Regions from separate parts of the Homo sapiens genome. Here region 2 is linked to region 1. The links come from fine-mapping of genetic effects on gene expression. A gene starts in region 1. The other region holds a variant in brackets. All regions are shown on one strand. Distances are between the middles of the regions.

Region 1 (4,383 bases):
CCGCCCCCGTTTCTTCCTCCTGAGACCACTGCTGCCTTCAAACGCAAGTAACCCAAACCTGCTCCCAAACCCATGGCAAGACTGACCCGGAGCCTAACCCAGCCCTGCCCCGAGCCTGACCCTGATGCTCGAGACTAGACCCCAGACTGGACCCGGTCCCAAAGTGGGACAACAAAGACCACAGCGGGGACCACCCAGGTCCCCCAGAGAGAAAACCCGCGTCGGACTCCAGGGAGCTCATGGTAACCCCTTGTCCTGGGGCAGCTTCATTTTACTTTGGCAAGGACCGCAGTGTTCGCTTTTCTCATTAAACGAGGGGCTTTCAAGGATGTGTTAAAGTACGTGAGAGACGGGCCTGGTGCCGGCTGGTCCTGTTTTCTTAAGGCGGAAGTTGGGGAACCGCGTCAGCACTCCGGGGTTCGGATTCCTGGAACCTGGGGCAGAGTCTGAAATAAAGCAGCACCGGCCCTGTGTGGCGCGGACCCATGGGAAGCCTTGAAAGGAAAGTCTCTTCAGAAAGAAACAATGGGTTCAGTGACTTGTACACTGAAAAGATAGATGGCCAGTTTTAAAGTTCTCCTGCGTTTAAACACGGGCAGCAGCGGGGTTGACGGTACAGGCACCAAGTTCTGACATAAAAGTCTTTCCTTAAATCATGTAAAAAAACCGAGACGTGCGCACTGCCAACTTACACTCATCGACACAAACTTACAATATTTATAAATAAGTCGCAAGCAAACACTGAGTTACATTTACCACGAAGTCACTGGACAGAGACCAAAATCCCATGAAAGCGGATTGATGTGAAACCACGTTAGATCTGAGACGCAGACGTGAGAAACGCCACTGATAAGAGACACGGAAGATCGGAGCCCAGCCCCGTGAGCCGGTCGGGGACAGCACGGGGGTCAGCGTGCGGCCGGGCCCGGCTCAGGCTCGCTGAGGTCCAGGAACGGGCACCTCCACCTGGACACGGCGCGCTGCCCCGGCAACCCCCAGGGGTCTCCCAAACGCAGACCGGGACGCAGCGACCACAAGCGTGGCTGCGGGACGGGGGCCTTGGGGCCCGGGCGTAGTGCGCCCGCTCGGCACCTGCCCCAAGGCGCCGCCGGGTGAAGCAGGTGTCCCGGAGGGCCGGGCCGCGGCGGCTCAGGGGATGCCCTCCCTTCTCTGGCAGCACTGCGAGGGCGGCGCGGACCAGTCGTACACGTAGGACAGGCGCAGCTGCACCTCGCGCTTGCACAGGCGGCCCTCGCGCGCCAGCGTCGCGTGCTTCTCCAGCATGTCCTCCAGGCTCTGCTTGTGCGTCACCAGGTACTGGTTGCTGCAGCCGCGGGACCGGTATTCGGTGTCGAAGCGCGGGTCGTGCTCCCGCTGGACGTCCACCGGCGCCAGCCAGGCGCCCAGAGACACGTCCTCGCTGTGCCAGGCGCGCAGGTAGTCGCGGCTGAGGCGCAGGTAGTGCACCAGGTCGGCCGAGAGCACGTAGCCGCCGCCCAGCGCGTAGGGCAGGTAGTAGTCGCAGAGTTGCCAGGCGGCCTCGCGCCAGCGCCCCCCCGGCTTGACGCGGCCGCGGCCCGAGAAGAAGCCCCAGTAGAGGCGGCGGCGGCGCGCGGGCTCGCGGGCGCGCAGCTCGGCCAGCAGCGCGTCCAGCCGCGCGAAGGAGTCGTCGTCCGCCTTGAGCACGAACTCGAAGGCCACGTGCTCGTCCAGCCAGGCCAGCATGGCCAGCACCTTGGCCGTGAGGTTTTCGTAGGCGTCGCGCAGCGCGGGCAGCAGCAGCAGGTCCCCGTGCCGCGCCTGCTCCCGCTCCAGGGCGCGCCGCTCCTCGGCGCCCAGGCCGGCCGTGCCCACGGCAAAGCGCGCCCACACGTCGCCCGGGGCCCCGCGCCGCGCAAGCCACGTGCTGCGGATCACGCTGCGGCGCTCGGCGGCGCGGGGCGCGCTGGCCACCAGCACTGCCAGGAAGGCGGCGGCGCGCGCGGGCGCGGGGGGAGGCGGGCTGCGGCCCGACATCGCCCTGGGGTCCCCGGGCTCGGCCGCGCAGCGCGCCAGGTAGAGCAGCGCCGCCCCGCACAGCGCCAGCGTGCCCAGGCCTAGCGCCGCCCGCCGCCGCCACGCCCGCCGCAGCAGCTTCATGGCGCCCGCGCCGGGCCGGCGGCCCAGGCCGGACTCGCGAGTGCGCAGGCGCCGCCGGCTCGGGGCGGTGCGCGTGCGCACGGCGCTCCTGGGAGCGCGCCGGGGCCTTCCGCAGACGCCGAGCCCCGGGGCGCTCGGAGGCCGGCGGCCAATCGGCGGCCGTCACGTGGCCTCGGGCACCCTTGTCATTGGTCAACCTCGGAGCGGCCCCGCGACCGCTTCCGCCCGGAGGAGAGATGGTGGCGCCGGCGTCCCCTCCGTGAGGTCGCGCCCGTTCGCACCGCCCCCGCCCGCAAGAAAGATGGCAGTGGCCTGATCCGGGCCCGTTGGCGGCGTCACTGACGCTTCGCTCCGGTCCTCGGATCCCGAGCGCGGGGAGGCAGACCGGTGAGTGAGGGGCCCGGGACGGCCGCTGCAGGCCGCGGGGCCAAGTGTACGCCGGCCGGACGGCGAGGGCGGGTCTGGAGGCCGCCGCCGCCTCCCGCCTTGGGCTGGGGCATCGTCCGTCCGCTCGGCCTTGAGCCCTGGCGAGACTCCGCCGCCACCGGGGCTCCCGGGGTTCCCGGGGGCAGGGACAGGCCGACGACGCTGGCCTCCCCGGCCGCCGGCACGTCTGGTCTCCTACTGGCCAAAACCTACGAATGCCACCGGGAAACGGAGGCCCAAGGGGTCTGGTTGGACTCGCGTTTATCGGCGAGGCGACCTTGGACAAGCTGCCCCGCTTCCCTGCGCCTGCGCTTCCGCTTCTGAACCGCGTGGACCCTCATCCCCAGTTAGTAGGATTTGGAGATGTGAAGTCGGCTGTGTGGAGCCCTTGATGTCTGGCTCAGAGGCGGTGTTATGAACCCTGTTGAGCTTTTAGAATCTAACCGTGTGTGTTGTTAACTGCCAGAAATAGCCTCGTTCCACCAGAGCTGAAGCCCAGGGATGGCAAAGAAATAGCGTCTCTGCCTAAGCTGTTTCCCACGTCCGTTTTGCAAGGGTGTGTTGATTCCTTGCTGGGAACTGAGCTGCTAGGGGATGGCGAAGTCGAAACCCCATTCCGGTGGGACCGGCCCGCTCCGCTGTGCTGCGAACCTGGCACACCGTGATGAATAGATACTCTGAAGCCAGGAGAGGAAGCGCCACTTGATGGACTCCTGATATTTATAGTTACTTTTGGGTTACTTTTTATTCCCCCTTTTTCGAGACAGGGTCTTATCTTTTTGTTTTTGTTTTTTAAAGAGACGCAGTCTCACTGTGTTGCCCAGGCTGGTCTCACGATCCTCCTGCCTCAAGTAAACCGTGTAACTCATCAAGATATGTAGAATCAAGAACTAGCTTTATTTTCTCTAGGAACAAAGTACAGTCTCTTTGCACACAGCGTGTGTTTTACGACTGTAGTTAGTGGAGTCAGCACCAGGAGGAGGTGTCTTGGTTCTTATCCAGGACTCTCCCCTGGTCAGGCGATCTGGGACGACAGGAATAGAATTATGCCACCACTAGGGAAGGGAAAAGCCCTCAGCCATGTTCAGAAAATCAGGCCGGGTGCATGGCTCACGCCTATAGTCCCAGCACTTTGGGAGGCCGAGGCAGGAGGATCACTTCAGGTCAGGAGTTAGAGACCAGCCTGGCCAACATGGCAAAACCCCATCTCTACTAAAAATACAGATTAGTGGAGAGTGGAGGTGGGTGCCTGTAATCCCAGCTAACTGGGAGGCCGAGGCAGGAGAATCACTTGAACCTGGGAGGTGGAGGTTGCAGTGAGCCGAGACTGCACCACTGCACTCCAGCCTGGGCGACAGAGTGAGACTCTGTCTCAGAAAAAAAAAAAAAATCAGACATGAGCCCCTCACCCAGGGTTTCCTTCCTTGGGGGAACTCAGGCTTGTACCCCTCTTGGTTTGTGGCAGACTGCACTGACTTCAGGACCACTTTCATGGCGGCCCCACTGGTGTTTCTCGATACCTGGAGGCAGCATTTTTTCGTTTAATATTACCCAGGGTAGCATTCGTTGAGCGCCTACTGTGTGCAGGCAGAGTGGCAGGTGCCAGAACAGTGAAGCTGAATAAGACGGCCACAGAACAGGAGTCTCAGTCCATGTGTGTTGAGGGAACAGCTGTGACATGGCGGGGCCTCAGCGGCACCCGAAAGGACCCGCAGGTGTTTGCCGGAGGGGCAGACTGTGAAAGGAGTAGGCTCGTGGGTGAGAAGGACCCCGAGTTCCCTTTGGGATACATGAGGCATGAGGCCCTGTGAGCCCCTG
Region 2 (4,383 bases), 760 kb before region 1:
TGGTGGCCTGTGCCTGTAATCCCAGCTGCCCAGGAGGCTGGGGTACAAGAATTGCTTGACTCCGGGAGGCAGAGGTTGCAGTGAGCCGAGATCGTACCTCTGCACTCCAGCGTGGGCGACAGAGTGAGACTCTGCCTCAAAAAACAAAAACAAAAACAAAAAAAGTTAGTTTGATTTTTTTTGGTTGTTCTTGGGTTTGTTGTTGTTGTTGTTTTCATTTTGTTTGTTTGTTTGAGACGGAGTCTCGCTCTGTCGCCCAGGCTGGAGTGCAGTGGTGCAATCTCGGCTCACTGCAAGTTCCGCCTCCCGGGTTCATGCCATTCTCCTGCCTCAGCCTCCTGAGTAGCTGGGACTACAGGTGCCCGCCACCACACCCGGCTAAATTTTGTATTTTTAGTAGAGACGGGGTTTCACCGTGTTAGCCAGGATGGTCTCGATCTCCTGACCTCGTGATCCACCCACCTCTGCCTCCCAAAATGCTGGGATTACAGGCGTGAGCCACCGAGCCCGGCCTGTTCTTAGTTTTTAATGCAACTCGATAATATACTTCCCTTTAGCTTGCTTATTTAATCTATATTTTTACTTAGGTTTTAACCTGAAAGTTTCTTATTTTGTCCGTTCTTCAACTGTTTTTTTTTTTCTTTTTTTTGAGACTGAGTCTCATTCTGTCGCCCAGGCTGGAGTGCAGTGGTATGATCTCAGCTCACTGCAACCTCCGCCTCCCGGGTTCAAACGATTCTCCTGTCTCAGCCTCCTAAGTAGCTGGGATTACAGGGATGCGCCATCACGCCCGGCTAATTTTTGTATTTTTAGTAGAGACGGGGTTTCACTATGTTGGCCAGGCTGGTCTCAAACCTTAAGTGATCCGCCCACCTCGGCTTCCCAAAGTGCTGGGATTACAGGTGTGAGCCACCTCACCTGGTTTGTTCTTCAACATTTTTACGAGAATTAAAGTACAGTCCTATCCGGCATTTCTGATGATTTTCAGTGTGATGCCAGCACACTGGCTAGCCATGTCACCACAGTGGAACTTCCACTGCTTCTTCAGCACGCTTTCCTGGGTCTCTCAGTTCCCAATCCCACTGCTCCCACTGGAGGACCACCTGAAGCTGCCCAGTCCTGAACCTTTCACAGCTGTGTGGCGACGTCGGGTTTGTTCTCAGCTTCTCCTGCAGAGGGTCAGCCAGCGCCTCTGTCTGCAGGGACAGCTACCCTCATCCCTCCACCTCCCGCTTCTCTTTGCTCCTGTTTCTCCCAATGACCCTTGCCCTGGTAGATTCATGTACTGAAAACAATAAATCTACCCCCTGTTGTTAGTGAGGACTCAGGAGAGATCAGAGGTGGCTGCCTGTTGGAAGTGCCGTCTTTAACCGGATGCTCAGTGTATATGGTTTAGTGTGATCATCTTCAGAGGAACTGTGTGTGTGCAATGACACCTTTTAGAAGACTGACATCCACGGGGTGTCCAGCAAAATGACGTCGCGGAGGCCGCATGGAATTCACAAGCACAGAGCTGAATAGGTTTGGCCATTTTCTAAATAGTTTCTGAAAATCCTGCCATTCAAAGACTAGCAGCTTAATCAGTTCTTTCAAGTGGAAAAAATATTGTTGGAATTTTACAAGATGCCTTAAAATTCTGCCTCCCAGGACTTTAAAATGCAATTGTTTCTTTGTAAGTTTAAAAAATTACTGGCATTGATACATTAATAATTTATCCAAGAAACATTGCTAGGCACTGAAAATATTTTTAGTGAATTATTCTGAAGCGATTGCTAAGTTAAGCAATGAAACACAGTCCTCTACAATTTTACAGTTTTAGCATCTCATACATAATGTCAACATTTATGTACATTTCACCCGGAATTACTCATTATTTCAATGCAAAATGGTAGTGCTAATTCCCAATGTTAAATGTCTGTCTCTATACTAGGTACATTGACTTAAAGCTTTTTTTTTTTTTTTTTTTAACCCTTTTAGAGTCAGGGTCTTGCTCTGTCACCCAGGCTGGCCTGCAGTGGCACAATCACAGCTCACGGCAGCCTCGACCTCCTGGGCTCAAGTGATCCTCCCACCGCAGCCTCCTGAATAGGTGGGACTACAGGTGCCCACCACCACGCCTGGCTACATTTTTTTATTTTTATTTTATTTTTATTTTTTTTGAGACGGAGTCTTGCTCTGTCGCCCAGGCTGGAGTGCAGTGGTGTGATCTCGGCTCACTGCAAGCTCCGCCTCCCGGGTTCACGCCATTCTCCTGCCTCAGCCTCCCGAGTAGCTGGGACTA[T/C]AGGCGCCCGCCACCACGCCCGGCTAATTTTTTGTATTTTTAGTAGAGGTGGGGTTTCATTGTGTTAGCCAGGATGGTCTCGATCTCCTGACCTCGTGATCCACCTGCCTCGGCCTCCCAAAGTGCTGGGATTGCAGGCGTGAGCCACTGTGCCCTGCTGATTTATAAGCATTTGACATCAGCTGTTTTGTATATTAATCATGGTACAAGCACAATGTGATTAATAGGCGTTAAAACCAATCACATATTTAAGGTCTAATAGAAAACAGCCACCGGCCGGGCACGGTGGCTCACGCCTCTAGTTCTAACACTTGGGAAGGCCAAGGCAGGTGGATCACTTGATCCCAAAAGTTTGAGACCAGCCTGGGCAACATGGCAAAACCCTGTCTCTACAGAAAATACAAAAATCAGTTGGGTGTGGTGGTGCGTGCCTGTAGTCCCAGCTCCTTTGGGAGGCTGAAGCAGGAGGATCAATTGAGCCCAGGAGTTGGAGGCTGCAGTGAGCTGTGATCGCACCACTGCACTCCAGCCTGGGTGACAGAGTCAAACCCTGTCTCAAAAAAATAAAAGAAAGTTAGCCATTAAATTTAATTCTCACCAGAAAAAAATAAGTAAAGAGTTTGTGATTTTAACATTGTTTCTTTTTTTTTTTTTTTTTTTTGAGACAGTCTTCCCCTGTCGCCCAGGCTAGAATGCAGTGGCGTGATCTCGGCTCACTGCAACCTCCGCCTCCTGGGCTCAAGCAATTCTCGGGCCTCAGCCTCCCAAGTAGCTGGGACTACAGGTGCCTGCCACCATACCTGGCTAGTTTTTGTATTTTTAGTAGAGATGGGGTTTCACCATGCTGGCCAGGCTGGTCTCAAATTCCTGACCTCAAGTGATCTGCCCACCTTGGCCTCCCAAAGTGCTGGGATTATAAGCGCGAGCCACTGTGCCCGGCCTGTTTCTTAAGTGAAATTATTTAGTTCCAACATCTGGACACAGAAGATTCGGTACCAAGAGTTCCACACGAGCAAGCTCCTAACATTCCCAAAATGATAAGCAAAGTGTAATGATAATTTTGAAATTATTTAAGAATTGTTTTTGGGCCAGGCGTGGTGGCTCACGCCTGTAATCCCAGCACTTTGGGAGGCCGAGACAGGTGGGTCACGAGGTCAGGAGATCGAGACCATCCTGGCTAACACAGTGAAACCCCATCTCTAATAAAAATACAAAAAAATTAGCTGGGCGTAGTGGTGGGCGCCTGTAGTCCCAGCTACTCGGGAGGCTGAGACAGGAGAGGGGCGTGAACCCAGGAGGCAGAGCTTGCAGTGAGCCAAGATCCCGCCACTGCACTCCAGCCTGGGAGACTGAGCGAGACTTCATCTCCAAAAAAAAAAAAATTGTTTTTGGTGCCAGATGTAGTGGCTCAAGCTTGTAATCCCAGCACTTTGGGAGGTTGAGGTGGGTGAATCCTGGCTGAGACCAGGAGTTCAAGACTAGCCTGGGCAACAAAGAGAGACCCACCATCTCAACCAATAATTTGAAAATTACCTGGGCATGGCGGCATGTGCGTGTAGTCTTAGCACTTGTGAAGCTGAGGCGGGAAGATTGCTTGAGCCCAGAAGTTTGAGGCTGTAGTAAACTGTGATTGTGTCACTGCACTCCAGCCTGGGCAACAGAGTGAGACCCTGTCACAAAAGAAAACAGAAATTGCCCAACAGTGTTCCAGAGTATCCCTTTACACTCCCACCAGCAACGCGTGACGATGCCAGCCCTTCCATAGCCTTGCCAGTGCTCACTGTTGGCAGCGTTTTGATCTCAGGCATTTTTTTTTTTTTGAGACGGAGTCTCGCTCTGTCACCCAGGCTGGAGTGCAGTGGCGCGATCTCGGCTCACTGCAAGCTCCGCCTCCTGGGTTCACACCATTCTCCTGCCTCAGCCTCCCGAGTAGCTGGGACCGCAGGCGCCTGCCACCATGCCCGGCTAATTTTTTCTGTTTTTTAGTAGAGATGGGGTTTCACTGTGCTAGCCAGGATAGTCTCGATCTCCTGACCTCGTGATCCGCCCACCTTGGCCTCCCAAAGTGCTGGGATTACAGGTGTGAGCCACCACGCCCAGCC

Which allele goes with the higher level. Alleles are on the strand shown, and positions count from the first base shown. SD is a standard deviation of normalised expression in the study named.
For the expression in skeletal muscle of the gene that starts at base 2,417 in region 1, C is the high allele of the variant in region 2 and T is the other (large effect, 1.7 SD a copy in FUSION).

The links. PIP is the estimated chance that this variant, and not a neighbour inherited with it, causes the effect.
Region 2: its variant is the best candidate, but not a certain one, in a credible set for the expression of SDF4 in skeletal muscle (FUSION, PIP 0.62).

The regions. Positions count from the first base shown.
Region 1 is chr1:1,230,035-1,234,417 of GRCh38, reverse strand. It overlaps SDF4 (stromal cell derived factor 4), which reads left to right and starts at 2,417. Exons shown (of 7, transcript NM_016176.6): 1 at 2,417-2,526. B3GALT6 (beta-1,3-galactosyltransferase 6) reads right to left here and starts at 2,181. Exons shown (of 1, transcript NM_080605.4): 1 at 1-2,181. The coding sequence starts at 2,139. The coding sequence ends at 1,150. RefSeq lists enhancers at 1-315, 1,100-1,781, 1,782-2,463 and a silencer at 2,080-2,939.
Region 2 is chr1:1,991,758-1,996,140 of GRCh38, reverse strand. All of the region lies in intron 1 of CFAP74 (cilia and flagella associated protein 74), which reads left to right. Among named protein-coding and RNA genes, the nearest start is that of CFAP74, 9.8 kb to the left of the region's middle. The variant T/C (reference allele first, on the strand shown) is at 2,282.